2 separate regions of the Homo sapiens genome follow, and region 2 is linked to region 1. The links come from fine-mapping of genetic effects on gene expression. A gene starts in region 1. The other region holds a variant in brackets. All regions are shown on one strand. Distances are from middle to middle.

Region 1 (15,502 bases):
AAGATATAGGAATGAAGGATCAGAGGAGCAATCCCACATGGGAATCCATGACTTGGAACCTGGGACTCTTGTCAGAACTAGTAAGTGTAAAATGAGGGCATTTTATTATGGATGAGGGGCCCATAGGGGCAAGTATCAAGGGAGATAAGAGCAGTAAGGAAAACTGATTTGGAAACCACAAGCCATTTTGTAGCTTTAAGAGAATATACATCATTGTGGAGTTTGCGGTAGCCTGGTGGGAGAAGTGAGCCAGTGACAGACAGGAATACATGTCCACCATGGTTAGGGCATATTGTGGGGTTGGGGAACCTGAGGGAAGGACTCATTACCGTCAATTTTCCATCATGAGTGTGGTCAGTTTCCTCAGTGATTCTGCTAGGAGTGACATATTGCACCCACCCATACTTCTCCACAGATATTCAATATGTTTGGGATAGCAGTTGATTATGGGTGGGAAACGTAAATGCAGCATCTTATTGTGGAAGGCCTTAGCTGCAAGTCTCCAGGAATGTGGATTTTTTTTTTTTTTTTTTTTTTGAGACAGGGTCTTGCTCTGTTGCTCAGGCTGGAGTGCAGTGGTGATACTGTGGTTCACTGCAGCCTTGACCTTCTGAGTTCAGGTGATCCTCCCACCTCAACCTCCCAAGCAGCTGTGTGTGCCACCACGCTTGGCTAATTTTTGTTTTGTTCTTTTGTTTTGTTTTTTGTTTGTTTGTTTGTTTGCTTTTTGTAGAGATGGGGTTTTGCCATGTTGCTCAGGCTGATCTCAAACTCCTGGGCTCAAGCCATCTGCCCGCCTTGGCCTCCCAAAGTGATGGGATTACAGGTGTGAGCCACTGCACCTAGCCAAGAATGTGGATTTAATGAGCCACTAGTCCATGGAAGACTCTTGAACAGGGGAAGGATGTGAGTGGAGTTGCATTTGGGTTGGGTTGGGGTGGGGAGAGGCTGGAGGTGAGGCTGCTGTGCTAGGAGCTTAACCACCAGTGAAGGGTTGAAGAAAGGAGGTGGGGGCAGGGGGAATGACTGAGTGGGCAATGACAGAGGCACTCACGTGACTGGCCAAGACTTGTCTGCAGGAGACCAGGGAGCTATAGCCAGGCAGCTGCAGGGCCATTGATAGAAGCTGCCATGGCTTGAGCACTTGCTCTATGCATACTCACGCAAGCGCATTCGTATATGATCTCGCTCATCCCTCACACTGAGGTCATTTGTGGGATGCAAATGGCCAGCCTTATGCTTCTGCCCCATCCACACAGGTCAGGGGCCATACTCTGTGCCACTGCCAGGGGGATCCTTTCATAACCTGCATCAGATCATTTCGCTCCTCTGCTTGAAGCTCTCCCAAGGTTTCCTTCTTGCCCAGAGTAAAAAGCCAAAGTCCTATAAGGCCCTGCATATCTGGCTCTAGCCATCTCTGTGTCCCCTTCTCTTACACTCCCTTCCTCCTTCCCTCCCTCTGCTTCATCCACACAGGACCCCTTGTCATTCTTCAAACTCTTGCTTTAGGGCCTTTGCTCTTCTCCTTCTTCCGGGAACATTCTTCCCCAGATGTGAGTTCTTCTTATTAGAAAGGTCTTCCTTCATCACCTGAGTAAGACACTAATAACCCGGGCCAGCGCATTCCATTTTCCCTCACTCTGTGTTATTTTTCTCCCTAGCACATATTGCCATCTGGCATACTATATGTGTACTTGCTTATTTGATTGGTGTCTGTCTCCCCCTCTCAAGTTTGTAAGCCCCTTTCAGGCAAGAGCAATGTTTGTTTTGTTGACGTCTACGTATCCGCAGTGCCTAGAACAGTTCCTGCTGTGTATGAGGCGCCCAGTAAACACTTGCTGAGTGGATGAATGAAGTGTGTATTATCATCCTGATTCAATGAAAGGGAAAACTGAGGCTCAGGAAGGGTACGCAACTTCTCCAGGCAGGACAGCTAGTAGTCGCCAAAGCCAGGGTTCAAGTCTGACTACAAAGCCTGTCCTATTTCCGTTAGGGTAGAATACCCTCGAGGAGTCTTGGATCTTTGTAACTGAGAAAATGGATCTTTAATAAACAGAAATGGGGAAATTGAACAGGTTTGGGTAATAGGGGAAAGATGACAAGGTCATTTGGAGCTCTGCTCTTCTTTGAGTGCAGTGGGACCTCAGAGGCTAGGGGTAGCCATTTGAGCATCTCCTGTGTACCAGGCACTGTACTGGGCACCAAGAATTTAAAAATAAACAAGACACCGTCCCTACCCTTGAGGAGCTCACCAACTAGGGGTGAAATGTCCAGGACACACTCTCTGAGTTCCTAGGGCTGCAGCTAACCTTAGCCAGACCAGAGCACAGATGAGCTCGCAGCCAGACTCTCCAGGCCAGATACGGGCCAGGCAGCAGCATCCGTTCAACAGAATCGCTGAGCAGTTCTGTTGTGCCAGACAAAGCAGTCACACTAGAGATACAGAAGCAGGTCAGACAAGGGTCCATTCTCAGAAGCTCACAGCAGTGAGGAGGAAGCATCCTTCACTCATTTGTTCATTCATCTGTCAGCTAGAAAACAAGTACTTGCCATGTGCCAAACACTCCTAGGCTCTTGTTATAAAACAATGAAGAAAAGAGACATGATCCCTACATTCAAGGAACTTACAACCTAGTGGCGATGTGGAGAAAAGGAAACTCTTATACGCTGTTGGTGGGAATGTAAATTAGTACAATCTCTAGGAAGAACAGTATGGAGATTTGTCAGAGAACTAAAATTAGAACTACCATTCAATCCAGCAATCCCACTACTGGGTATCCATCCAAAGGAAAAGAAATAATTAGATACCTGCACTTGTATGTTTATCGTAGCACTAGTCACAATAGCAAAGATGTGGAATCAACCTAAGTGTCCATCAATGGATGATTGGATTTAAAACTGTGGTGTATATATATGCAATGGAATATTATTCAGCCATAAAAAAGAATGAAATCATGTCTCTCGCAGCCACATGGGTAGAACTGGAAGCTGTTATCTTAAGTTAAAAAAGTCAGACACTGAAAGACAAATATCACACTGTTCACTCATAAGTGGGAGCTAAATAATGTGAACACATGGCATTAGGGTATGGAATAATATACACTGGAGACTCAGAAGGGTGGGGGGAGGATGATGAGAAATTAATTAATAGGTACAATGTGGTGATATCAATCTGGTGATAGATATCAATAGATATCAATCTGGTGATAGATACCAATAGATATCAATCTGGTGATAGATACCTTAGAAGCCCTGACTTCAAGACTATGCAATTTACGCTTGTCACAAAATTGTACTTGTTCCCCATAAATTTATGTAAGTTTTTTTGTTTTTGTTTTTGTTTTTATGAGATGGAGTTTCTCGTCACCCAGGCTGGAGTGCAATAGTGCCATCTTGGCTCACTGCAACCTCCGCCTCCCGGGTTCAAGCAATTCTCCTCTCTCAGCCTCCCGAGTAGCTGGGATTACAGGGATGAGCCACCACGCGTGGCTAATTTTCATATTTTTAGTAGAGACAGGGTTTCACCATGTTGCCCAAGCTGGTCTTGAACTGCTGACCTCAGGCGATCTGCCTGCCTTGGCCTCCCAAAGTGCTAAGATTACAGGCGTTAGCCAATGTGCCCGGCCTGTAAGTTTTTTAAAAACCTAGAGGTGAGTAATTATAATAAGTGATATTATTATTATTATTACTCTTAACAACAATGACAATGATGACTGATGAGGGCTAAGTACCAGCTACTATCCAAGCACTTCCATGATTTATTTCTATTATTTCTCACAATGACCCTATGGGTACCCCTATATTACAAATGAGAAAACTGAGGCTGCCATCTTTCTAAGGTCTAAAGTGATTTTCTGGGAGCACAAACAAGAGCTTAATTAATTTTAACAGATAAAGACAGAAAAGGCTTCACAGAAGATTCACCTTTTCAGGGCAACCTAAAGAAGTATGGGTTGGTTTTCTTTAAGCTGAAACATTACGGCAAGAACCTGGAGTAATATCTGCTTCAAAGGGGAGTTATGCAAAGTCAACAAGAGAAGACGTGTAAAACCCAAGCACAGTACCTGGCACAAAGTAGATGCTCCCAAATCTTTGTTCCCCTTCATTGATCCTCTGTGATGGAAGGAACTTGTAGCCACTTTCCTCATCCGCCTTGGTTTTTCAAAAACACCCTTTGAAGTTATAACCTCCTTGGGAGCCAAGGCTTCTCTGAAGCACCCCATTACAATCTTTGCCCTCAACTCAGAACTGGAATGTGTTTGAAAATGCTAACAAGGGCAGCAGCCCCACCTCTTCGTCATTGCCTAAGGTTGTTAGGCAAACACACACACACACACACACACACACACACACACACACACACATGCACACACACTCACACAGTTGCTGGGGAGATCATGGTAAACACAAGCCTCTCTTTTGGATCAGAATAATTGAGTGGTCTCCCTTTGTGGCCAGTGTACAGGAACAAATTAGATGGGTAAATTAGCAGTTCCCGAAGACATTAGCAACCAGCGGCTCACACAGCAAGCGCCTGACTCACCGTGGGGCCTCTCCAAGTCACAGCCTATGAATAGATGCTCTTCCTCCCTCCGAAAGAGAAGCCAGAGTGCCCGGAACACCACAGGGGAAGCTTGAAGACTTGTACCCCTTTGGAGTCTTTTTATTTTAAAAGACCAATTTAATCACCACTTCTTCTGGCTCCTTGAAGATGAAAAAAGTTCCCTTGCAATCGTCCATTCATCAGAGAATTAATGAAGCCTACTCACCAGCAGATGATGTAATCCTGGTGGCTTCCCCCATCAGATCTAGGCTGCCTGCCCCACGGATACCTTCTGGGCTAATTGCCTGCTTTGCACCTGTTCCTTCTCGGGAGGCCCTGGCACCCTAGCACCTGGTGCCTGTGCCATCTCCCCTCTCTGCCAGGACACCCAGAGGCCCTTGTGAATAGCAAAGCCCACTTAACGGCTGAGGGCAGGTGGGGGTATTTCCTTCTCAATTCTGCTCAAGGCCCGTTGCTGTTCTTTGAGGATGTTGCAAATCCAGGGTTTGGAGGGCTGGGCCTCTTGGTGGCCTGGTTGTCTATCTGATAGGGCGGAGCCTTCACCCTTGCAGCGAGCTCTCTCACACCAGATGTGCTCTGCGTGGAATCCTAGGCCATCAGGGGATTCCTTAGCAAGCCCTGCAGGACCCAAATCCTAACTCAGACCCTCATCCTCCTACTCAGAATGTGGAGACTTGTGATCCTCAGTTTGGACGAATTCCAAGAGACCTTCCAATTCCCAGAGGCCATCTTTGGTTCTGTTCACACATAGCTCCCTCTCCCTCCTAGGCCTTCTCCCTTTGAATTTCTCCCCTACACCATCAGCCTGTATTTACTTCTCCTTCTTGCTTAATGCATGACTATATTATCCCAGTTAAGGGGGTCTGCAGGTTTTATCAGAAAGTTCAGAGGCTCACATGACCTGGATTGGAACTTGGCTCAGCCACTGACTAGCCAGACAAACTCAAATAACGTACACAGCTTCTCAGCACCTCACCCCCTCATTCATAAAAAACAGGGACAATGGTACCCACTTTGCAGGGTTGTTGAGTGGATTAAATTAAACAACACAAGGAAAGAGCTTTCCTAAGTTCCAATGCTATGTAACACACACAGTATTGTCTTACCCAGCAATAATTTCGGTGCACGGATCTGATCATCTCTTAATTAAATATTGAATTCTCCTAACACGGTTCTTTTTTTGAACCCCTCAGGGTCTGAACAGTTATAAGTGCACAGAAGTTGGGTCTTTATGAGCTGAATAAAAGGAGACTCCGGCTGTCTTCTCTTTTGTCCTTACCATAAAGCTCTTGTCAGCTGCTCTCCTGGCCCTGCCTCTGACCCTGGGCTTTGGGGCCACTATAGGCTCTCCTTTCCTTGTCCCCCTCTGAGTCCTGAAGTCCTGGTTTGCAATCTGCTGTTGCAGTTCTCTGGAATGGCTGCTTCCCCATGCGCCCCTGTCTGTCAGCTACCTCCCCCGCATGCATGTCTGTCTGCTGGGCAAGGCCCAATTCCGAGGTGACAGCTCACCGGGCCTCACCCACAAGTCTCTTCCAAGCATTAGCAGCCCACCCCAGTCCAAAGATATCTTTTATAGCTGATCTCTGGTGGCACCTCCTACCTTCCAATTAGGAGCCTGTCAACACCCAGGCCATCACTCTTCCTGCAGTGTCTGACAACACACACGCCTGCCGCGGCTGCGCCGGGAGAGTCAAGCAAAATTGTTTCCATGGTGGTGGTGGTGGCCTGAGCACAAGAGTTGAAATCTAGGTGAATCTGAATCTAGTTCTGCCTTCTCACTTTGCAAGGAGGTGTCTTATTTCTCTTTGAATTGGCAGCACCAAGCATCATGCCTGGCACACAGTAGGTACTCATAAATAAACACGTGTAAATCAAAAAGGCCGAAGATACATTGCTAGCTTGCAGACTCCCTTTCTCAATGTCTAATGATATCCAGTTCATTTCTTTCTCTTACATGTGCAAATCAGAAAGTTAGCTCATAACTCATCTGTTGTGACTTTTTCTTTCCTTTACTTTTGTGGTTGAAAATAAATTTACCCCAGAAAAGAGAGAGAGAAGGTGCCTGATTCCTTTGTCCTCCCTCTTCGATCCTCTCTAAATCCCTGGGTCATGGTAAGACTCTCTGAAATTCAGGGCCATTTTCAGACACTGGAGCCAATGAGGGAAGTATGACACAATCGAACATTTTTCTTATCTGGCAGTGTGGTCTGGTGGTTAGCATACGGGCTCTGCCAGTCGGAAGTCTGCCTTTCTATTTCTGGGGCTTAGGGGAAACCATGAAGCAACAGTCTTAGCAGCCCACTCACTCTTGCTTTCTCTTTCTCAATGTAAAATTGAGTTCACATTGGACCTGCTTACCCACAGCAGTCACCAGCTCAACCAGGGAAGGAAACGCACCACCCTGCTAGCCCTGCTTCAGCCTTGGGTGAGGCTGTGAAGGCTGGTGGTAAGCCGATGAAAGATAATCCAAAGAAATGAAAGTGAGGGTGATGAGTAGGAGAGCGGTTTGGGGCTGAGGGTACGAAGATGCCATGATGACTGACTTAACCACATCAAACTAAACCATGTCTCCTACTACAATTCACCAGCCTGAAATTGTGAGAGGATCTCGGGCGCGGAGATTTCGCTGGCTAAGGGGCACCCTGTGTGCCTACAAGAGGAGGTGGGAGGGAAGTTAACCTTGCGTTGTCCTCCAGGGCGCAAATCCAAAAGTGGGAAAAAGGGGAAGTTCTTTGATCTGAAGTAGAAAAAGTCGGGGAGAGAAGGAGAAACACCCAGAATGGCAACAAATTTGATGAAATCAGAGGGACAAAAAGAAGAGAAGGGTATTAAGATCAGATCTTCTGAAGGGCAGAGAACTATAATGACACAGTTGCTTTATTGCTGGACCCAGGACAGTTTATACAGCAGTTCGGAAAGGCCTCTTGAGGGGTTATCTGTGTCAGCCCAGCCTAGCATCGATAGAAACATGAATCTCTGGGAAATTATCTTGTGCCTCAGACTTCAAAGTACATAGAGATTTGAACAGCCTTGAAGTCGATAGGAAAACTTTCAGCATTTGATCAGTCGAATTATCCCACCATAACTCTGCAAGTTCTTGAGCCACATCTAGAAAGAACAAGGCAAGTTAGGGAAAAATCATCATTTAACATGTCATTTCTTTCCTCATTTCTACCCAAATGATCTTTAGGTCTCAATTCCTGCTCCTGTTGTCGTTTTTGCAACCAGGAAGCTGTGAGACCTTTGGGTTATCTTTAGAGTGAGACCCTCTAGAAGGTTTTAGGCCGAGCCTTGGGCTGGGTGATGAGATGGCATTGACTGTGGGCTGACTATTGCTTTGGAGTTGTGAGAATTTCCTCTCTGCAAAGGAGGTTCAAATACTATGTTTTCCCGGCTAATTGTTCATTATGCAGAGTGTCAGACTATGGTCAGAATATAGTGTTTTACAGGATCCCAGTGTTAATATCACAGAAAAGTCCAGCTGACATTATGTGATGTAGGGTGCTTTAAAAGAAAAAAAAAAAAAAACAGTTCCTCTGCAGGGGGCAACACTAAGAGAAGGATACTAGCTTTTTTTTTTGTTTTGTTTTGACAGAGTCTTGTTCCTGTCACCCAGGCTGGAGTGCAGCAGGGCGTGATCTCAGCTCGCTGCAACCTCAGCCTCCTGGGTTCAAGCAAGTCTACTGCCTCAGCCTCCCTCGTAGCTGGGATAACAGGCGCCTGCCTCCACGCCCGGCTAATTTTTGTATTTTTAGTAGAGACAGGGTTTATCCACATTGGCCAGGTGGGTCTCAAATTCCTGACCTCAAGTGATCCACCTGCCTCGGCCTCCCAAAGTGCTGGGATTACAGGCATGAGCCACCACGCCCCGCCAGGATACTAGCTTTGTGACATCAAAAATCTGGGTTTGAATTCCGTCTTGGCCCTTACTCAGGCAAGCCACTTACTCTCTCCTCCTCCACTTTTCATCTGCAGATGAGGATTACAAAACCCTCTTAAGGCTGTTGTGAGAATTTAATCAGATATACAATTAGTATAATCTCTGGCACATAGCAAGTTGTAATTTATTGCCCCTCTGTCCCAGAGTGCATGTGGAGACTTAATTTTTAAATATTAAAAACAAAGTTTTCACTGGGTTTCCAGTCTGTTGATGTTTATGGAGAGAAAGCTTTCAACTGACAAACGCTATCCAAGTGACAGAGCCCATTTCAGCATGGCGACTAAGGCTGATGATGTTCTGCTCTTAAGTGGAGATCAGCAAATGTTAAACAGGAGCCCCACCTGCTCTACCAGACAGCAGCAAAGTGCTTGTCTCATTTTCTTTCCAACATGTTACCATCCTTGTGTAACAGACAAGGTAATTTAAGCTGGGTCTAGACATGTCTGAACCAGTCTGGAGGGCCAATAGGACACCCTCCCTTCCAGACCTAATTACTTGCAGGATCAAGGAGCCTCTCAGAGAACAACATGTCCCATGGAGAAGCAAAGTTGAAGGGGCATTTGTTTTATTCAAGAACAACAGGAAATAGCAGAGGAAGAACAGCTCTCGGACCCCCAGTGGAGTCCTAGAGCAAGAGAGCTATAAGAGAGGGAGTGAAAATTGAATCAAAGGCTTTTCACTGAGATATCTGGGGAAGAGCAAGACACAAAGCTCTGGGGCCAGCTGCTTGGCTGTGAATAAAGATGATGGCACGGGTGGCTTCAGGGAATGGTGCCCTAAGGGCCAGTTTCGATGACCTTGGTTTAGGCAGCATCACTCACCTTTGAGGTCATTCACACTTACACATTCATTCATTCATTCATCTAACACATTTATTGAGTGGCTGTTATGTGCCAGGTGGGGCATCAATGCCTTTGGTGTGGAAATGAGTATCCTTGATACATGTGAATCCACAAGAAACATTCCTGGGGATTTGCTCCCAAAACTATTTGTAAAGGGGCAAGGAATGTGACAGATCTAGCGCCCCCATAGTGCAGGAGCCAGGGGAATCCACCAACTCCGGCCTGGTCACCACCTCTGCGACCCTGTTTTTATCTGAAGGCGTGTGTGGTCTGGGACCTGTGATGCTCATCTGTAAAATGAATTGGCTTGACTGCATGATCTCTAAGATCTGTATTTTATTGAAACTTCTACAGATTGAAACTCTAAGTCCTCATAATAAGCAATAATGAATCATGAACTAGACATTTTGAAAGCAGCATATATTACTTTGTGATCCAGCTTAACTGCTTGAATTATCAGTGTCTGAAATGATCCCCATCCCTCATTCCTCCCCTTTATCCTCTCTATGGTAGGATCAGGCACGACATTGCTTCAGCCCCTTCTACCATGTAGATTTACAGGCCCAGAAATGTTCGTTAATTTGGATTTCAAAGTGAATTCTTTCGTCTTTTAAATAAAGCCAAATATATATATTTTTTTAATTTTGTTTTCAAAACAGGGTCTTGCCCTGTCACCCAAGCTGGAGTGCAGTGGTGTGATCATAGCTCACCACAGACTACAACTCCTGGCTCAAGCAGTCCTCTGCCTCATCCTCCTTATTAGCTGAGACTACAGATGCAAGTCATCATGCCTGGCTAAGTTTTTTAAAAATCTTTTTTTTTCTTTTGTAGAGATGGGGCTTGCTTTATTGGCCAGGCTGGCAAAAATATTTTTTAAGTTGTGCATGAGCCAACACTGAGGACAAAAAATTAAAAATCAGCAGGCTGACTTTAACTAATGGCTACCAGTTCGCAACCTTTAATTTTAATAATTAGGTATGGGTTGATTCAGGAGAAATGGGATCTAGCCATATCTGGCTCCTACCTGGCTTGAGCGGATCATCAAACTTCTCTGAGACTCAAGTTTCCTCATCTTATGATGAGATTTTAGAATTCAATATTCCTTCCAACTCTTGACAGTCTGTGCCTGTGTTTTAGAGCAGTAATGTCATGTGTGTACTTGTTGGCTCGTGAATATGTCACCGCTTTTGCATTCAAGATTGGAAAGTATGTGCATGTCCTTTTTGCTGGGAGGTAGGAGGCTCCAAAAAAGTATCATGACTTTACCTTTCCTCTTTGTATTAGAAACAACTGAGAAATAGACCAGGAAGCCAAGTGAGAATTAAACTATAATATGTGCTCTCTTGCTGGCAAAGTGGAATAGTGACTGCCCTTTCAACCTGTGGTCAAAGTAGAGATCATTACCTCCTCCTCAAGTTTAGGCCAAAGGATCTGCCTGTGGGCAGAATTTGGGATGCAGAATAGAACTTTACACTGACAGCCATACTGAGGACCCGGCCTTCTCACACTGTGGGAGCATCACTAACAGTCAGTGCCCAGCACATCCCACCTGGGCCATGTTCCAGGTGTGCGTACCTGGCCCAGTGACTCCAGGAAGCAGGAGATGAAAAGAAACCTGACTCTACATGCAGACAGATCACTGAGCAACAAACTTCAGAGGAAGCAGGGCTACTGCTAGCCCACATGATGCCTCTGTAAGAATTAGAAAAAGCTGCCTCTTCCTCTGGGCAGACACTGCCACATCAGAGTGCGTGGCTTAGCAAGCAGGAAATAAATTATATTTCAGCCCCAAACTCATCTACCCTGCTGCATAATCACAGCAGCAGCTTGGGCGGGGCTCCCATTTTATGGGCTGAGGATGGGACTGCAAGATGAGGGCCTTGAGTCATTGTCATAAGTTCTGTGGCTATACTGTCCAGAATAGTAGCCACTAGCTGCATGTGGCTATTGAAATTTACATTCAAACTAATTAAAATTAAATAAAACTAAAAATTTCACAGCTCAGTCTTACTAGCTTCCTGTAAAGTCCTCAATAGGCCGGGCACGAAGGCTCACGCCTATAATCCCAACACTTTGGGACGCGGAGGCAGGCAGATCACTTGAGGTCAGGAGTTTGAGACGAGCCTGGCCAACATGTTGAAACCCCGCCTTTACTAAAAATACAAAAATTAGCTGGGCATGGTGGCGTGCGCCTGTAATCCCAGCTACTCAGGAGGCTGAGTCAGGAGAATCTCTTGAACCCGGAAGGCAGAGGTTGCAGTGAGCCGAGATTGCACCACTGCACTCCAGTCTGGGTGACAGAGTAAGACTCTGTCTCAAAAAATAAAAATAAATAAATAAATAAAGTGCTCAATAGCCACATGGGGCCAGTGGCTACCATATTGGACGGGCAGATGTAGAACATTTCCATCATCACTGAAAGTTCTCCCATTGTCCTATGGGACCACTTTCAGTTGTATTAGCCACTTCCGAGTCTTGACTAGCTTACCTTTCTCATCTCCTAGCCTGCCATCCCACATAACAGACTGCATTCTCTAGTCCTTCTCATGTGTTCCCAATATCCCGAGTGGAATCCAAACATCATACTTTTTGCTCCTGCTGTTCCCTCTTCCTGAAATGTCATTCCTCTGCCAAGAACAATCCATCCAATCAAATCCAGCTCGCTCTTCCAGGCCCAGATCAAATGACAACTCCCTAAGTTTCCTAGGTGGGCACTGTTATCTCTTGAGAGCACACTGTACATTTATCTGTCATAGTATGTTTAGCATTGATTCTAGTTGAGCGTTAGGCTGTCTTGTGGCCCCTGCTCACTGTGTGCCTTTGAGAGCTGGTACCTGTCTTATTCACCCCTGTGTCTCTAGGGCCAGTGTACAAAAGCCCCTCAAAGCTGCACCTCTGGGAGGAAAAGCCTCTTGAACCCTATCATTAAGACTTTGGGTCAGGTAAGTGTGTAATGATATTTTAATGCGATTAATAATTTTGATAATTTAATGTTTAATAATTCAGCAATATTTTTCATCACAATGCCTTCAGCACTCTCTCCCTGTTGTTTCTCTGAGCCCTTCTAGATGAGTACAATTTTCCCCAACTCACTGCTGAGAGAACAGAGGCGTAGGGATGGGCAGTCATCCAGGGTGACTCAGCTAGGAAATGGCAGAGTGACATTTGGACAGAGCTCTTCCTGACTCCAGAGCCCAGATGCTGGAATGCCTCTCATGTGAGGGAGTGGTCTATGGAAACGGCCTGGCAGACCCGCGTTTGTTTAATTGAGACAGAATGGAGGGTGAAGAGCTCGAATTAGGCAGAGGATTAGTTCGGGACAGCTGCCCCTGCTGCACATGGATAAACCCAGAAAAGGTCAAGGCGAAATTGAGGACGGGTCTCTGGGAGGCTTTCTCAGGCTTCATTCCTCTGGACAGGGTTAGGTGGGTCAAGTGACCTTGTTTGAACTCTCCTTTTCCTCTCCTACTCTCAGTCCGTCACTTCTTGCAAAATCAGATGTTGCAGAAAGGCAAGTTTGATTCTGTCTGGGAGAGGATTGTGTATTCCCAACTTTCCCTTATGCCTCGGCTTCAGATCAGATGCTCTGATCTCCTCTCTGTCCTTGGAGGCACCATTTCCACGGCAGGCCTAGGTGAGCTGGGAAGTTTTATGATGGCATTAAAAAAAAATTCCTTTCTGCAAGAGGCTTTTCACCTGAGTGTCAACTAACTCTGGACATCTTGTTACTGAAGCTCTTCTAGCCTGGGGAGAGACATTTTGTCTCAAAACTCATTAACGAGAGTGGGAAAACTGGGGGAAGGAAGCACAAGTTATCAGGTACAGCCTGTCCACCCATGGCTCCCTCCAACCCTGGTGTAGGTTTCTGAGGGGCAGCGCTGTGGGACAACTCCAGTAATTGCCAAAGCACAAGTCTCTGACCTCCCGCTAGAGTGGCCTCGGTTTTCTCTTTTTTTGGCCTTGTCTTCCTTCCTCTTCTAGTTTTCATGTTCTTGTTTCTCATTTTCTCTTACCTCTGTACATGCCTTAAATCTCCTAGTGAGTCCCCTGGGCATCGTGTGGCCCTACTGGGGGTATTCAGCTCAGAAAACATCTTCATACGGTTTTTGAACTCTAGCTCTCCACCTCTGTCCCCCTTCCCAACCCACAGTAAACATCTCTGTTTAATGTTTTGAGGTCCAGATTCTATGAGTATAAAGGGGTTGAATCATGAGCCAAGATATGCACTTGAGGAAGGAAACATCTGCATTTAAGGGGGCAGGTCAATTGCCTCCTGGCAGATCACCTTTCTCCCCGGCCCTGCCCTCCCCAGATTTGGGCACCTGCACTTGTTATTCGGACCTTAGCAACTGGATTCTGAGCCCTTGTGTTCCTGGTCTGAGTTCCTCCCTGTTGGTGACATTGGCTGAGCCCAATCTCTAGGTTAGGACAGCCTGACAACTCATTGCCAACTCCTGGTGATGGTTCTGTTTTGGTTTGGCATAGTCTACCTGGGACTGTTCCCCAACTCTGGGTAAGCCCTTTGTAACACCTGAGCCTCTCCCCCTAAAACTGAGCACTATCATGTAGAAGTTAGGAGCACAGCCCCTAGTGTCGGACCGGCTGTGTTTGAATCCTAGTTCTGTCCCTTGCCAGATGTGTAACCATGGACTCGTTATTTTAGCTTGCCATGCCTCTATTCTATTCTATTCTGTTACCTGTAAAAGGTAGGAATTATAATGCCCATTTCATGGTGGTGGTGTAAGGATTCACTGCGATAAGACCAAAGAGATGGGACCTTCTCTCTTGAGAACTTGACAGTTAGGTCCAAAGGAGTGTGAGTAAAACCCAAGTGCAATTTAGGCAGGTGACAATAACCACAGAGCCCAACCTGATGGAATAGGCAGGAAGTTGTATGGGGAATTGATGGCAACAGAGTCAGAAAACAGAGCGGTAAGTATTAATGCAGAGAAAAGTGAGATCCATAGGCAGAAATTCTATGTAAGGCCAGGCTCTTTGGCTCACACCAGTAATCCCAGCACTTTGGGAGGCCGAGGCGGGAGGATCAATGTAGGTCAGGAGTTCAAGACCAACCTGGCCAACATGGTGAAACCCCATCTCTACTAAAAATACAAAAATTAGCCAGGCTTGGTGGTGTGCGACTGTACTCCTAGCTACTCAGGAGGCTGAGGCAGGAGAATCACTTGAACCCAGGAGGCAGAGGTTGCAGTAAGCCAAGATCACACCATTGCACTCCAGCCTGGGAGACAGAGAAAGACTCTGTCTCAAAAAAATAATAATTAAAATTTAAAAAGAAGAAATTCTACCTAAGAGCCCGAAGCTGCCCTCTGCCCTCTCCCGTCTCCTGCAGGACATGGCGCCAGCTCCAGGTTAGGGTAATCTGGAAACTAGCCTTGAGTGAAGGGGCTGAAAGGGCTCAGGCAAGTGGGACAGGATTTATAGCCTGCTGCTGGAGTTCTGAATAAGGACTTGAGTCCCCCTTCCCAGGATTTAGAAGGGCCAGGGAGGTGGGTTAGCACCACCAGAGCAGGGAGGTGTAAAGGTGCAGCACAAAGCTACAATCTGAACATAGCACCCCCTCATCTCTTGGTACTTGGCATGGTTGGCTCCTTGGCACCCATCTCTCCCCCTTGATAGTCCCTTGGAAAGCCATTCCTTCCTTACTCTTAGTCCCTGTGTTCTTGGTGGAGTTCCCACATCCAACTTCCAGAGTAGGCCACGTGAGCATGCCTGGCTAATCAAAGCATGGTGCCTCCCAGGCCACTGGGATTGGTTCAGAGAAGGGTCACCTTGGGTAGCTGATGTTGCTGCAGCTATCTTGCCACCGTATGGAGCCAAGACTGAAAGATGAAATAGAGCAGGGCAAGGAAGAGAGGCCCAGGAAGACCAAGTCCTAATGACATCGTTGGAGCCTTCGAATCCAGCTGTGCCTAGAGCCAGCCCCTAACCCTGGAGTTTTCAGTTACATGGATCAATAAATTCTCTATTAGCTTAAATCACCTTGATTTGAGTTTTCTATCACTATTAACCAACAGCATCCTAATCAAAGGCTAAAGCAGCTGAAAATAGCCTATTTCCAGACCGCATGTGCTCATTAATAAAGAGCAAGTTCCTGTGGTACCATGAAGCCATGATACCATTGGCCTTGTGTCTGGA
Region 2 (15,502 bases), 27 kb before region 1:
AGGGAACTCAGATGAAACTGGCATTTGGATCTGGCATAACTCCTCCCTTTTCTGAGCCCTCTCCTTGTCTGCAGCAACCGCTCATCATTCCCCTAGGCTGCCCCCTGGCTCCTCCTCTGTGGGCAAGGCTCTCAGCTGATGTGATCTATCATAAGGAGTTAGGCAAGTATTACCTGTCCCCTCCCAGGGGAACCCTCATTTCAGAAGAGCAGCTGGAGAGAGACCCTAGGGGCCCCTTTGAGAGGGTACTGACCAGGAATGCAATAAAACGGGCATTCTTCTGAGGCTCCCAAACTCTATCATGTCAACAGCCACTGATTCTACCCATGGGGAGAGCTGGCCTTGAATACCTCCATAAGCTGCAAAGCACATCTCCCCCTGATTATTCGCTGGGGCCCCAGCTGCTGGGAGACAGGGAGTTCCACAGAAAACACGCGGTGCAGCTAATCGTGCCTCTGAGATATGGAGGACCAACAGCATCTCTCCACCATGAAGGGAGGATCTTAATTCATGGCCCTCGCTGCCCACTGGCATGAATCAAAAGGGAAACTTCTTTTCTGACATTTAAATCAAGACTCTCCCAAGCCTCAGTTGATCAGTCACTTATTTCAGGCAGTATTCAGTGTCAAGGTGGGAGACAGAACATGGCAGGGCTCAGTGCAGTGGTTCTCAAAGTGTTGGTCCTGGGACCAGCGACATCAGCACTGCCTGGGAACCTGACAGAAATACAAATTCTCAGGCTGGGCGCAGTGGCTCACACCTGTAATCCCAACACTTTGGGAGGCTGAGGCAGGCAAATCACTTGAGCTCACAAGTTCGAGACCACCCTGGGCAACATGGTGAAACTGTGTCTTTACAAAAAATACAAAAATTAGCCGGGTGCGGTGGTGCATGCCTCTAGTCTCAGCTATTAATACTTGGGAGGCTGAGGTGGGAGGATGGCTTTAGCCCGGGAGGTGGAGGTTGCAGTGAGCCGAGATCATGCCACTGCACTCCAGCCTGGGCCACAGAGCCATACCTTGACTCAAAAGAAAAGCAAAAACTAAACAAACAAACAAAAAAACAAATTCTCAGCCCTCCTCCTTCCCTACCCAACTGAGACACCCTGGGGAGAAGGCCCAGCAGTCTGTGCGTTAATGAACACTTCCGGGGGACTGGTTGCAGGCTGACATTTGAGAATCAACAGCAAAAGTGCAGTAACACAAGTACCGGAAGCAGAGAAGACCCAGCTTCAATGTCCCGGACCAGCCCTGAGTGACCCTGGAGAGACCTCTGATTCTCTGAGCCTCAGTGAAATGGCAGCCATCATAGGCTCCACCTCACTCAGCTGTTAAAACAACCAAACGAAGCATGTCAGGGCACCCATGGTCAAGGGCTAAGCCAACGCTGGTTATGTTTTAACACATCTTGGGTGTATTCCCAGCTGTGCCAGTCTTGCTGCAGGAAGTAATTTTCACTCGTGGCTGAAAACATAGCATGTTAGCAGGTGGTTTCTACATAAAACCTTTAGGACAGTTTTAGGTGAATGCTTGCTCTTATTGGAAGTTCTGGTTGATTTCAGGATATCAGAGAATCAGTGGGTACATTCTGAGAGGTTGTAGGGGACCTAAGGGCAGTTGACACATTTTGCAATATTTGGGCGAGATTAATGGAATTGACAAGAGGTGGTCTGTGAGTGGAGAGCTCATTGTTCGGGCCAGGGCCAGCTAATTTGCCTCTGAATCCTGCTTTCCATTTGAAGATCTCTGAGTGTTTTCAAAGCACCGCCTGGGAGCAAACTCATTACTGGGGGGAGAACATTTTATCCCAACGTAGCAGATGGTGGAGCTGCAGGTAACCGCCACATTGGAGGTCACAGAGTGGAAAGACAGTTCTGGTTTCCTGACTGCTCTGTAAGTTAAGTTTGGGCCTGAGCAAGGATGAACGACTGAGAAAACAGTGTGCATGGAATGAATCCAACTGCCTGGGGTGTGCGATCCTTAAGGAAGGAGGGAGCTTATTAAAGGGAAGTCAGGGGGTAAATTACAACCCACATCAGGCAGCTATGAAGGGAAGGACAAAGGACGAATATGTGGGAGACAAGTTCAGGTCCCAGCATGACCTCTAACTTGCCAGGTGACCTGAGCAAATGGAGTCCCCTGTACAGGCTTCTGTGACTTAAGCCATAAAGCAAGGGAACTGAAAAAGAAGGTCTCTGTAGCCCCTTCCAGCTCTGGGATTCGGAGATTCTAATATTAGTAAAAAATAAGCCGGGACTTGACACCTAACTTGAGCATTAACCTCTGGCACCAAGAATTGGTATCTTAGGCTGGATATCCCAGAAGCAGCCCCTGAGGCAAGGATTGATGTGCCAGTGATTTATGAATGAGGCATTCTCAGGAAAAACCTGGAAGGCAGCAGGGGAGGCTGGAGGGAAGGGGAGGAAGCCAAGCCAAGTTGTATCCTCAGGCAAAGTCCCTCAGAGGGGAGGGACCCTGGAATATAAGTTATGCCTGGCTCCAGGCAAGGCTGCGGGGCTTGGTACTCCCACCATGTCTGTCACTGGTTAAGGTCCGTTGGGGGTCTAGTTGGGGCAGGCATACTTCTGGCTCTAACAGATTCAGGTGCTGGCTGTTAAAAGCAAAACCACTGCCATCACCGCCACCCCACCACTCCCAGCACACAAGAATTAGTGAAAAGGGATCCAAGGAGATCTGGCTCAGCACAGACATGAACAGCTGCTCTTGGGTTCCCAACAATACAACACAGCAGCAGAGTTGAGGTTCTGCATGGGGGTCTCATGAATGTTTGAAGCTAAATGTCGGAAAAGAACTGTAACAGGCAACTCAGCCATTGGAAATCCTCACGGGGACAAGTTATCCTAGGGGTGAAGAACTCAAACACATTAGAGGGCCCGTTCAGTTACTCCTCCAACTTGCCTTGTTAAAAGATCCTGCCAGATATACTAAGAATGCCAGTAAACAAGACCTTGGCTAAAGGACCATCCCTGACGCAAAAGACAATTTTTCTCCTCTGTCAAGAGATGTCCCATCTTAAGCTCTCTGCTGCCCATTTTAATAACAATAATATAAATATTAAAGAATGGCTGGAAATGCCTGCACTAATGCAGAGTTAATTAACATGTTGCCTAGGAATGTGGCAGGGAGAAGAATTATTTCATGTCACCAAGACACAAGTTAATTAACATTGGGTTCTCCCAGACTGTTTTTTTTTTCCTCTCCTTTTTGAAAATGGAAAGGATTAACAAGCCCAGGCAGCACTGGTTTTATTCCTGAATGTTATATAAAACGGTAGAGATAGGGAGAAGCTGGGGCTCTTCTGACCTTACTCTATCTGCACTTCAGTTAATAAGATTCAAATGATTTGACAGGGATGGAGTCAAGGGTCCGATGGGAATCATTTACCCGTCTGCCCTCTCACTGACTTGGCAAACTGGGAGTGAGCAAAACCAGGTCTGTATTTATCCAAGTTCTATTTTCTGTGACTTAAAAAAAAGAAAACTGACCAAAATTATAAGCATGATCATTGCAAAATCCTACTTATTTTCTCGGAACCACCATATCTGCAAGGACTGCAAGAACTTTATCTGGGAATTCAAGGACAAAAAGCTTCTTCTAACAGTCTTTAGGTAAAGCTTCCTTCACTGTGAAACTGCCTGCAGTTTTTTTGGTTTTGTTTTGTTTCTATAATGTAAAATGCTCTGAGGGCAGGTTTGGGAGGAAAAGCTGGCCCAGCAGCCAAGGGCGCTGAGGTCTCAACAAGCTTCCATGGGTTGGATGGTCCTGGTGTATCAGGGAAGCATGCTTCACAGACCCTCTGCTCCAGGAAAACGGAGAAATACTGACAGCTACACAGTTGAGCAGATCTGACAGTAGAGGGCACAGAGACAGTTACCTCCACAGCAGCTCATCGGAAACTAGAAACACTAGTACATTCTAGGCAAAGGCTTTCACACAGTGCTGGAAAATTCGGATGGCCAATAGGATGGCCCAGAGCATGGGAGATGTCCTCAGCTCCTGTCTTACTTGGTGTTGTCGAGTTCCTATTTTACTCTTCCATTCTTCCATCCCTTTGCTCATTAGATTGGAAAATAATGATTATGTAAGAGCAGCTAACATCTATTTGATCCATACCAAGCCAAGTAGTTTATCTGCATTATTCCATCAAATCCTCCCCACATCCTTAGAGGTAGGTGCTATTATCATCCCCATTTTACAGATAAGGAAATCGAGGCTTAGGAAGGTTAAATAACTTGCCCAAGGCCACCAAGCTGGGAAGCAATGGTATTGGGACTCAAACCTCCAACTGCCTACAGGGCCTTTGCCTTTCTGCTCTTCGAAGACTGCCTTCCTGCTATGAGTCAATGCTTGGAGCTCCATATGCTTTCTATTTTTAAATTTCTCATCATATAATACTGGAGTCATACAAAAAAAATTTATAACATACATATATGTTCTGAAGCATTCAAATGAGGTCCTCAGAGCCCACCTCCAAACTTAGAAACACTCCCAGTCCCTCTGATCCTCCGTGTGTACTCCTCCTCAATCCCATCCCCTAGCTTCTCCCGCTCCCCAAGGGAAGCACTTTTCTGAATTTTGGGTATACAATTCTCTTGCCTTTAAAGATATTAGTATTTTACCACATAGGAACGTAACCCTGAGAACATGCTTCTCAAACAGGAAGAAATGCCCTCTGCTTCTCAGCACAGGAGCTGAGACTCAGCCTCTGCAGTCTGACCTCTTTCTATAGGTGGTGTCCGAGCCTGGAGCAGGGTAAGGGGCAACACACACCGACTGCAGATGTCCATGGACCACCCAGCCTCCCTTCCGAGGGCCCAGTGGAGTGCCGGGGAGGGTACCTGAGATAGTCTCTCCGGCAGAGCTTCCGGCCCAGTTTGTAGTAGAGGCGCCGCCCCACCTCACCCAGCCGGCAGCCACAGAGGTCGCAGCTCAGGCAGTCCTCGTGCCAGTACTGGTCGATGGCCTTCAGGAAGTAGCGGTCCCCAATGTTCTGCTGGCAGCCGCCGCATGTCAGCAGGGATGGGGGGATCTGCAGCACCTCATCCACTGGTTCCCTGGAGAGAAGGCCAAGCATCAGGGACAGCCTCACCAGAGTGAGACCAGCACCGAGGGTCCGAGATCGTTTTGGGCCAGACAGGGCATCTCACCTGACTGCCTTTCAGTGACCTAAGGGAGAAGGGACAGGACAACACATCCCTTGGCCAGACTGCAGAGTCCCAACCAACCTTGGGTTAAGACGGGAAAGAGCCAGACCTTACTCCCTAGATGTCTAAGAAGTAAACACAGGGCACCAAGAGGCATCAAAGGCAATTGCAGGTGGCACTGTGCCCCTGCCCATGCCCAGCACTACCTGGGCACCTCTGGTCTCCTTCTGCTTTTTCCCACTCTCCCCGCTGACTCTATCTTCACAGATCTCCCTCATTTTCCTCCTCCCATAACCTGGACACCCAAGGGCACTGCCTAACCTCAAAGGACGCACTCTGGACTAAAAGAGTCGCTCACTGCCAGGGCAGCAGATGACCCAGAGTGCTAAGAATCTGCAAATCCCCAGTGCCATCCTCCCTCCAGCCCTAACCAACTGCACAAAAGCAGAGGTGAGGAAGAAAGAAGAATGAGACCAAAAATTATTTTAGGTTGCTTTCTCTTTCCAAAATCAAAATTCCATCAGGACATAATAGGAATTCTCCTAATTTTACTTTTTTACAGAAATTCCATTTTCCATTCTTCCTACTGAAGGAATACTTGGAGGAAAATCCCATATCGTAAGGCCATTGTTACACGAAGGACATCAAATAGGCCTTTCTTTCCTTACCTGAACATTTTTATAAGAGTAAAATTGATTTGGATAAAGTTGATTTGAGGAAGAAAATGAAGTGGGGGCAATGATTATTTCAAAGAGAGTGGAAGGCAATTAAACAGACACTGACATCTCAATCCAGCAATTGTTAATAGGCTGTGACACGTGTTCTTTCGTTAATACGCCATGCATAGCATCTCCTGTTCACTTTGCTTCACTGGAATCTGAATACATTTTTACATTTAAAAATAAATAACTTTGCTAAAAGAAAATAAAGGAGTGGAAGGAATTATTCTAGTGTCCCCCACATGGGACACAGCAAACACTTAATACGTGTTGATTTATAATAATTAGCAAGTGTTCTCTGGAACCTTACTTAAACACAAATCTATTTCTTAAAAATCTATTATGTTTCAAAAAACAGACCTTCTTCCATCTGTAAAATTCCCAAAGGGAGTTTCCTCCTGGGTACCCTGCAGGTATAAATCCATGTCTCCTATTTCTAACTGGTACTAACTTACCAGGCGACCTTGTGTCCTAATTGGTCTGTGCCCATAAAGCCCAGCAGCCATTATACTTGGGGACAGGAGGCTAGGTGGCTCAATGTCTATAACACTCTGACAACTTCAGGTGATCCCGTCATGTGAAGTATGAAGTGTTCCTTATGAATATTTAGGAGTGCTAAAGCCATGCCCACACTTTCTAGACACAGTGTAACAGCACTTCATGAGACTATCATCTTTGGAACAAGAAAATGGGAAGCTCAAGTTAGTTTATCTGGGGAAAAAAAATGGCCAGGTACAGTGGCTCACGCTTGTAATCCCAGCACTTTGGGAGGCCAAGGCAGGAGGATCACTTGAGCCCAGGAGTTTGAGGCCAGCCTGGGCAACGTGGCAAAATCCTGTTTCTACAAAACATATAAAAAATTGCCCAGGCTTGGTGGCATGAGCCAGTAGTCCCAGCTACCCAGGAGGCTGAGGTGGGAGGATCATCTGAGCCCAGGAAGTTGAGGCTGCAGTGAGCACTGCACTCTAGACTAGACAACACAGTGAGACCCTAGCTCAAAAAAATTCAAAACTATAGTTTTTTGTTTGTTTGTTTTGAGACACAGTTTCACTCTTATTGCCCAGGCTGGAGTGCAATGGCACAATCTCGGCTCACTGCAACCTCCACCTCCTGGGTTCAAGTGATTCTCCCGCTTCAGCCTCCCGAATAGCTGGGATTACAGGTGTCCACCACCAGGCCCAGCTAATTTTTTTTATTTTAAGTAGAGACGAGGTTTCATTCACTGAAGCCTTGCTTTCTTTCCTTTGTTTCTACAGATTGTATATAAGGACTGCCATTTCCCCTTCTAATAACTAATACCCTAGCTTTTTCATGTGTATCAACTCAGAGTTGCATCTCTTCTCTTTCCACAGCCCATGGTCTTACTCTGGGCTTTCAAAACCACTCATGGAACCTGGACGCACATTGGATGTCCCGATGTTGATGCTGCCAAAGGACTGTGAAAGAAGAGAATTTGCCCTTAGCTGGTGCAAAACTGCCTG[G/C]AATTCAAATGAACTGCTCTTGTTACTCACAGGGGAGGCAGTGGGGGCCACCAGTAGCACAGCAAGGGAATCTGTGTTCATGAATTCTGGCTGGCTTTCTGTCCAAATGTTTCATTTGCATATAGCTAGGCAAGTCTCCATCTGTAATTTGGAGATGCTGATTGTAATGACCCAAGCTGGATTTGAGGAAGTACACAATGAAGCATCTAGTAGGATACTGGACAACAGGAGGAATGTAAAGTAAAAGAGTTACGGTGATGGCCTGAGATGAGATGGAGAAGTAAAGTATAAGATATTGGCTCTGTCTTTCTATACTTAATTAATGATAATATCACATTATACTTAGTGGACAATCCAAGACAATGACTGAATTAGATTGATTCACCCTCAAATTAATATTTTATATTCTCCCAGACCCTTATCTTGAATATTACACCTGAGTATCATTTAAGCCTGGATTTCTGGGACAATCATAACAATTTCTAAGGGCATGGGGAGAATGTGCTGCAGCAATTTCTCAACTGGCTTGTCCCTCTTTGATCAGAATCTGTCTTCGTTGGGCAAATAGTGAAGTGAAGGAAGGAGCTGGTGAGCCTCCAGCAGTAGATATCTGTTGTATTAGGAAGTTAGGATGTTTCAGTTTCTAACCTCAGTGAAAAAGCACAAACTTTGAAAGAAGCAAACTTCCTTCAGGGAAATGAAACCTTCAGATTAATCTTCTATTGAAAGGATTAGTGACTAAATTCTGCTGATCAAAAAGGCATGAGGCACCAATTCATCCAATTCACTCCCTTATTGTGTTACTATGATCTTGCCCAGTCTCTGAAACTCAGAGCTCAGTTTTAAGTTTATTTTAAAAAAGTGATCAAACCACCCTTTAAACCCATTGTTTGCATAAACATACTTTTAAAAAGGAATGTTATTTTTCTCCTGAGAATTTGTTGAAGGAAGTGGGGGTTTTTGTTATAACAAACCTAGCTCATTACAGAACTGGTGTCTTAACCTTCAAGACTGAATAGTGATGTTTATATTCTCATTGGATGGTGGTACTTCCTGTGTTTTATGAGAATATGTTGAGCTTTTATGCTGGTAACTGAGGGTAAAACCCAGGTAAATAAACACCATAGAAAGCCGAAATTGAAGGGTGTATGTGTGTGTGTGCGGTATTTCAAGCAGGAAAGCACAATTCTTTTAAAGCAGGAAAAGAAAAAACAAAACAAATGTCTCTTAAAAGCACAAATGGACAAGTCATTAACCAGCTCCTTTGGTCTTGTGTAACAAATCCCTTCAAAGGATTAGAGGGGGACTTCAAAGGAATAAAAATTCTCAAAACCAGACAGCTAATGACTCTTAAAAGGGCATTTGCGTTGACAGGAAAATGATATCTTAAACACCCCTTACTCCCCATGTTAACGCTGAAGAATGGGTGAGGGATAGAAAAACATTCCAAACCAGTACGCGGCTCAGAAAACAGATGCGGCCAATGCTCATTAGAGCTCTGGTTCCCTGACCCCAAACCCTTTTAAGACTCTGCTAAAAACTACGAGACTCTACTCCCCAGAATAATTCACCTATACACAAAATGGTGCATTAACTTTCGAGGTTCACATGTCCCCATCGGTGGACCCCGAGGAGGGGTACACCTACTCAGATTTACTCCGGATTTCGCTGCTCTAGAAATCCCTGGAGGCCCAGAGCCAGCTCCGAGGTGGACGGTCGGACCCCTCACCCGCCCGTTATCCGCAAGGCTGGCAGCGGCTCCACCTGCGGACCGGGAAGGCGGCCGTTGGGGACCCCGGAGGCCGCCACTTGGAATGTTCCCCTTTCCAAGACCAAATGGACAAAGAGAAAGGACCGAGAAGGAGAGGGAAGAAGGGAGCAGAGTCAAGCCCAGAACGCTCTCCGGACTGCACCTGCGCGCCTCCAGGCTCTCCTCGTGCCTGCTCCCGTGCAAACTTTCTGGCCCGTGGTGGCTTTGGGGAGCGTCCCAGTAGCCTGGAGTGGCCCGCAGAGGCGCCGGGCCGACCCCTGTCCCTGCCGCCCGCCGCCCAGTCCCTCTCCCAGAGCCCCCGGAATCACCCGGGAGGAAGGAGGAGCCCAGCGCTCGGCACAGGGGGCCAAGGGCACGCCGCGAGCGCGCACCTGGAGCCCCCTCGCGGGCCGCCCGGGTCCCCCCGACGCTCCGGGACGCGAGGCCGTGGACACCGGGGGTGGCAGGGGCAGGGGGGCCGCACTTACTCTGAAGGGTCCAGGCTCTTCCTTTCGATGGCCGAGGACATTGGGGAGGGAGGCGGGGTGCCGGGCGGCGGGGGCGCTCCCTTTGTGGCGCGGGGCTGGCCGGCTGCCGGGGCTCGGACCCCCTCGGGTGCTCGGGCGCCGCCGCCGCCGCCGCCGTCGCCGCCGCTCCTGCGCCTCCGCTTGCTCCGGCGCTCCGCCGGCGAGCTCGCCCCTCCGCGCTCAAGGACAGTCACCGCGCTCCCTTCAAACGCCAAAGAGAGAGAGCGAATCACCGGGCTGCGGGCGCGCCGCGGCCGAGGCGGGGGCCGGGGCGCGCAGCCTGGCTCCAGGCGGCTGCAGCTGCTGCTGCTGCTCAGGACTTAACCTTCCATCCCGGTCCCGCCGCCGCCACCGCCCGGTCCCTCTCGCGCGCTGTCGCCGGCTCCGCGCCGCCCGCGGGGATGGTGTGCGCCCGCCCGGCCGCCCGGAGCCCCTCGCACCTTCGGCCCGGGTCGCGGCGCGCTGCTCGCCGCCGAGGGCAGAGAGGGGGCGGCGGCCTAGGGGCGGGGAGGGGACCGTGCGTCTCTCTCCGGGCTTCCTCCTCTCTCGGGAAGGTCTATTTTCGCTCAGCTTCCCTCTGTCTCTGGTTTCATTTCCTTTTTCCTGATCACGATTCAAATACAATAGAAGGAAATCACATTTAAAGAGACAGCTGCCCGGTCCCCCCACCTCCCCTTTTTTCTTCCTTTTTTTTTTTTTTTTTTTAAACGGGGCTCCTGGGGATTAGCAATACAAACAGCAGCATCAGGACTGACTTGGCTTCTTAAAGGGGCCAGTGTCGGGGACGGGGAGAGCCGCTCAGCGAACACCTCTCCTTGGAAAGGAGGCTGGGCAACCACTAAATCATTCTTCAGGGCTTCCCCTCTTCCGCCTTTCCCTTTTGGTTTAACTAAGGCAGAAAGTAACCCACGAACAGCTCGAGCAAGCAAGAAAAGACAAGAATGTGAAATAAGCACCTACAGAAATGCAAGTGTTCCCAGTGGATTTTCCGCCCGTCCCAGGTTCGAGGTCCCAGGTCCACGGACGCCGTGCACTGGGATGCCCCGGACAGCGCGGCTCTGCGGGCTGCGGGCTACGGGCTGCGGGCCCCAGGCTGCGGGCTCCGGGCTGCGGGCTCCGGGCTGCGGCCGCGCTCTGCAGAGGCGATGGTGGTGCGCCAGCCGGGACTGCACGGGCTGGGGACGCCTAGAGCAGAGCCAGGGCAGCTAATCCCAGAGGGAGGGTGGCTGGGAGGGACCACGCGGGGCCGGGGCTCCTCTCAGTCGGCTGGTGGCGGAATCCCCTCCCTCTGCACCTTTCAGAAAGCGGACTCCTGCGGTTAAACTGCCCCCCATGTAAAGTGCCAGTAGTATCCCGACCAGAGAAAGTGCTTTTTCAATGGTCAAGAACAGGATCAGAGAGATTATTTTGCCCTGGGTCAGGCACAGAGAAAGAAGGCGGACTTGATTTGGGGGTTCAGGCTTCCCCCTCTCAGCCTCCTTCTAGAAAGAGGCAGGAACGCAGAGGGGAAGCGGGGGAGGCTAGTAGTTTGCCCTTCCGTGGAGAAAAACTTAGGCTCTCCTGGGCCTCAGAGTTCCTTGAAAATATCTGCGTTCAGAAGCTGAAAGGCCTATTTGTGCGTGATGCCAGTCATTAAGGCTTGTAAAGAGGGAACGTACTTTCAGGATCCATGGTTTTATATGATCAGTCTGGATCATAGGCATACATTTCTGTTCCCATTTTAAGGATAACCAGAGTTTACTACTGCCTGCATGCTCTTGTCATTTTCTGGTCCCTGTGTCCCAAGGCTTGGGTCCCTAATGGGTATAATCAAAAGCTGTGTGTGTGTGTGTGTGTGTGTGTGTGTGTGTGTGTGTGTCCCAAAGGAAGCCTTAAGAGCAAATTTTTGTCCTAGTGGAGACTTCAGTATACAAAAAGACTTTTTCGGCTGTGCTCGGTGGCTCATGCTTGTGATCCCAGCACTTTGGGAGACCCAGGCTAGCCTGAGCAACACAGTGAGACCCCGTTTCTACAAAAAATAAAAAATAAAAATAATTAGCTGGGCGTGGTGGTGCTTGCCTGAAATCCTAGCTACTCGGGAGGCGGAGGTGGGAGGATTGCTTGAGCCCAGGAGGTTGAGGCTGCAGTGAGCCATGATCGCACCATTGCCCCCCAGTCTGGGGAACAGAGTGAGACCCTGTCTCAAAAAAAAAAAAAAAAAAAAAAGTTGGGTTTTTTTTTTTCCGATAGACCCTTGTTTTTAATTTAAAAAAGAAAATACTTAGAATTTAGGCAAGCCTAAACTATGTGATAAATATGTAACCTACCACACTACTTTCATTTCTAACAGAAATGAAAATAAATATATAGGTTGTGATGAACAGTTTACCTACTTATAACCAGTCAATGTGGTGGTTAAACGCTGGAATTTTGGAACCCAACTGCCTGGGTTTGATTTAGACTCTTACTTATCAGTTAGCATGTCCTAGGAAAATTATTTAATCTGAGGAGGCAGTATGCGGTAGTAGCTCTGGAGTCAGACTACCTGGATTCTAACCCATCCTTGACCAGCTGTGTCAACCTGGGCTCACAGCAGGAATTTAAACTCCCAGTATCCTGGCCGGGCTCGGTGGCCCACACCTGTAATCCCAGCACTTTGAGAGGCCGAGGCGATCCCAGCACTTTGAGAGGCCGAGGCGGGTGGATCACTTGAGGTCAGGAGTTCATGACCAGCCTGCCCAACATGGTGAAACCCCATCTCTACTAAAAATACAAAAATTAGCCAGGTGTGGTGGCACATGCCTGTAACCCCAGCTACTCGGGAGGCTGAGGCAGGAGAATCACTTGAACCCAGGAGGCAGAGGTTGCAGTGAGCAGAGATCGCGCCATTGCACTCCAGCCTGGGTGACAGAGTGAGACTCCGTCTCAAAATAAATAAACAAACAAACAAATAAACTCCCAGTATCCTCATCTGTAAAATGGAGACGACAGAACCTATTGCCTAAGTTATTGTGGGGATTATATGAGTTAGTGCACAAAAGGGTGGCACATAGATTTGTAATGGCATGGGGGTAATAACAGATATGAAGTTGCTTGCATGAAAAGCAACTGGTATATAGTAAGCACTCATAAATGGCAGCTGCTATGTTATAGTAAAGGGCATCATTAAGATAATTTTAAAAGAGCTTGAAATTAAATTTAAAGGTGAAATGGGGGTTTAAAATAAGAATTGCCCACCCAAATTTGGAAACTATTTCCTGTTTTTTAAAAGCAGGAAACAGGATTCCTTCACCTCACCCCCTTCTTCTCCTAAATAAAACATGTAAGTGTTTTCCATTTTAACGTTCATTATCGTGGTGACTAAATGACCTGTTTGCATCTGCTTGGGTGTTATTTGTTTGTTTGTTTGTTTTTTGAGATGGAGTCTCGCTCTGATACCCAGGCTGGAGTGCAATGGTGCGATCTCAGCTCACTGCAACCTCTGCCTCCTGGGTTCAAGCGATTTTCCCTGCCTCAGCCTCCCGAGTAGCTGGGATTACAGGCGCTCGCCACCACGCCTAGCTAATTTTTTGTATTTTTAGTAGAGACGGGGTTTCACCATGTTGGCCAGGCTGGTCTGAAACTCCTGACCTCAGGCGGTCCATCTGCCTCAGCCTCCCACAGTGCTGGGATTGCAGGCATGAGCCACCGCGCCTGGCCACATCTGCTTGTTTTTATTTAATCTGATAAATTATTACTTTCCTTGTCACAGTTTTGCATGGGGCTCAAGTCAGTTTTTAAATTAAATATATCCTTGGGTTCCAAGAGGTAACCTCAGAACAGCCAAATTCAGGGCATAACGTTTCTTTTTAATAATATGCTTCTACTTTGACCTGAGTGTGTAAAGAAAAAGAGATTACTGCATATGACTTTGGGTCAGTTTCTTATCTTTCACAACTCTTTGGGGAGAACTTCCTTAGAGAAGGTGAATATTTGAAATGGTATCTTAAGATTTCAATTTCACACACAGTGGTTGTAAGAAATAACTGCCTACCGGTGGGATTTCATTCCTATTCAACGGGCAATTAAATTGCTCAAATTTAAGTTTAACATTTAGAATCAAGTCTCAAAATGTGTTTTTATTATGAATAATTTTAAAGCAATCATGACCTTATTGTATCCTCCCTTAACAACTAGTACATGCCTTATGCAGAAGAGAGACTCAGGAACTATGAGGTGATTGGGACATGTAAAACGGTTCTTTTAAAAGTTGAGAAAATCTCTATTTGATCCCTGCCAGTGGGACTGAAATTTCATTCCTTTTCCCTTTCCCCCAATTCCTTGCAAATCTTAAATATCCTAAAATCTAGAAAATGTTCAAGTTTTCCTTCCTGAATAAGAATGCTAGAAGAAGAATGAATCAATCTACACGATGGCTCTGACCCCAGATGGATCATTTTTTTCCCCTGTGGGCATTTTCTATCCTTTTTGCTTATTACATTTACAATTGTTTTCTAAGGGAACAGCAGTTTCAAGTGACTAAGGTTACATTCCTTTGCTAAAATGGACTTCTGATAGAAATGAAAATGCAAATATAATTGAGAAGATCCCAACATTATGATAATTTACCTCTCTTTTTTTTTCAACCATTAGAAGCCAAGTTGCAACATATGCTTTGTCACTTGTGACATTCATATACAAAAATATGACATTTTGTTTCTAAATGTGGCATTCAGGAACAAAAATAAAGACCTGTCTTAATAGGGTTTCGGCTCCCATGGAGAATTTTTTTAAACTATTCGGTTGTCACAGGCATCCTGTGCTCAGACTCATTTCAGAACATTTCAGGGCCAGCTGACAGATAAGTTTTCACAGATGTAAGGCCTATTAGTAACCTTAGTGATAAACAGATTCGGTTTTCTATATAGTAAAGAGCCCAAAATACATCTTTTAAAAAATCCATTTCAACCGAGCCTTAGGATGAGCATAGAAGCTCAGCTGTTTGCTAGCTGCGTGATCTGGGGGAATTTACTTCACTTCTCTGAACCTCAGTTTCTGTACCTATCAAATGGAGGATGGAGGCAATCATAATGTCACCAGGGCCAGAACTAGGATGAGGCCACTGGGGTGCCTGCTTGCCTCACAGGAGTTTTGAGAGGAGTCAATAGGATATGTATAAAAATACTTTGCACAGTGATGCTGCACAGTAAATGGTCAGAAACGATAGCTGTTGGTATTACCCCATCTTTCAGAAGTAATCACCACTGTATCAGGAAGCAACAATCTCCCAGCCAATCAGGACATCCACCAAAGAGTGCTGAGACTGGGGTGCTGTAGAAAGAGCTGAAGTTCACCTAAGACCTCGGCAAGCCTCAGGCCAGAAATGCAGGGCTGTGCCCATTTCGGGGCCTGGGTAGGCTGCTGACAGCTTCTCTGCTTCTCTGCTACACTGCTACACTGACTGCTTCAGCCACATCCCTGATTTCATCTGATTTTCCCCTCCAACAACTTTCAAACCACCATTTATAATTTAAAAAAGAAGCCAAACAAAGCACTGAAGGAGCCGCCCCCAAATGTCACCATTCCTCAGTGAGTTCTTAGCAGTGTTAAGCTCATAGTGTGTCCTAGTGGAAGGGGCCTGAGAAGTGGGATTTTCTAGCTTGCTCCTTGGAGCAGTAGGAGTTTGAAAGCACCTCCCTAGTGGGTGTCACCCACCCCTGCTCCCACTGCAGCAGTTCTGCATTCATTGACCTTGGGCATGTTGCCCAACCTCTCTGCATTTGAGCTTCCACATCTGTAAAGCGGGAGTATTCAGAGTACCTACTCGTGGAGCTGTTCTAAGGATTCTGTGAAATGAAGCAGATCAGGTGCTTGGAGAGGAAAGTGGCACATAGTCACCTTCT

Which allele goes with the higher level. Alleles are on the strand shown, and positions count from the first base shown. SD is a standard deviation of normalised expression in the study named.
As copies of C replace G in region 2, the expression in nucleus accumbens of the gene that starts at base 5,051 in region 1 goes down (small effect, 0.33 SD a copy in GTEx).

Evidence for each region. PIP is the estimated chance that this variant, and not a neighbour inherited with it, causes the effect.
Region 2: its variant is fine-mapped to the expression of LMO2 in nucleus accumbens (GTEx, PIP above 0.99). The same link has a PIP of 0.9 or more in caudate.

The regions. Positions count from the first base shown.
Region 1 is chr11:33,887,026-33,902,527 of GRCh38, forward strand. It overlaps LMO2 (LIM domain only 2), which reads right to left and starts at 5,051. Exons shown (of 6, transcript NM_005574.4): 1 at 4,770-5,051. It overlaps LOC105376621 (a long non-coding RNA gene), which reads left to right and starts at 6,921. Exons shown (of 3, transcript XR_931176.3): 1 at 6,921-7,010. RefSeq lists enhancers at 4,507-4,616, 6,994-7,163.
Region 2 is chr11:33,859,744-33,875,245 of GRCh38, forward strand. LMO2 (LIM domain only 2) reads right to left here. Exons shown (of 6, transcript NM_005574.4): 3 at 9,967-10,244; 4 at 9,603-9,843; 5 at 4,859-5,074. The coding sequence starts at 9,973. Among named protein-coding and RNA genes, the nearest start is that of LMO2, 25 kb to the right of the region's middle. RefSeq lists silencers at 9,420-9,499, 9,690-9,769, 9,790-10,209, 10,640-10,879. The variant G/C (reference allele first, on the strand shown) is at 7,365.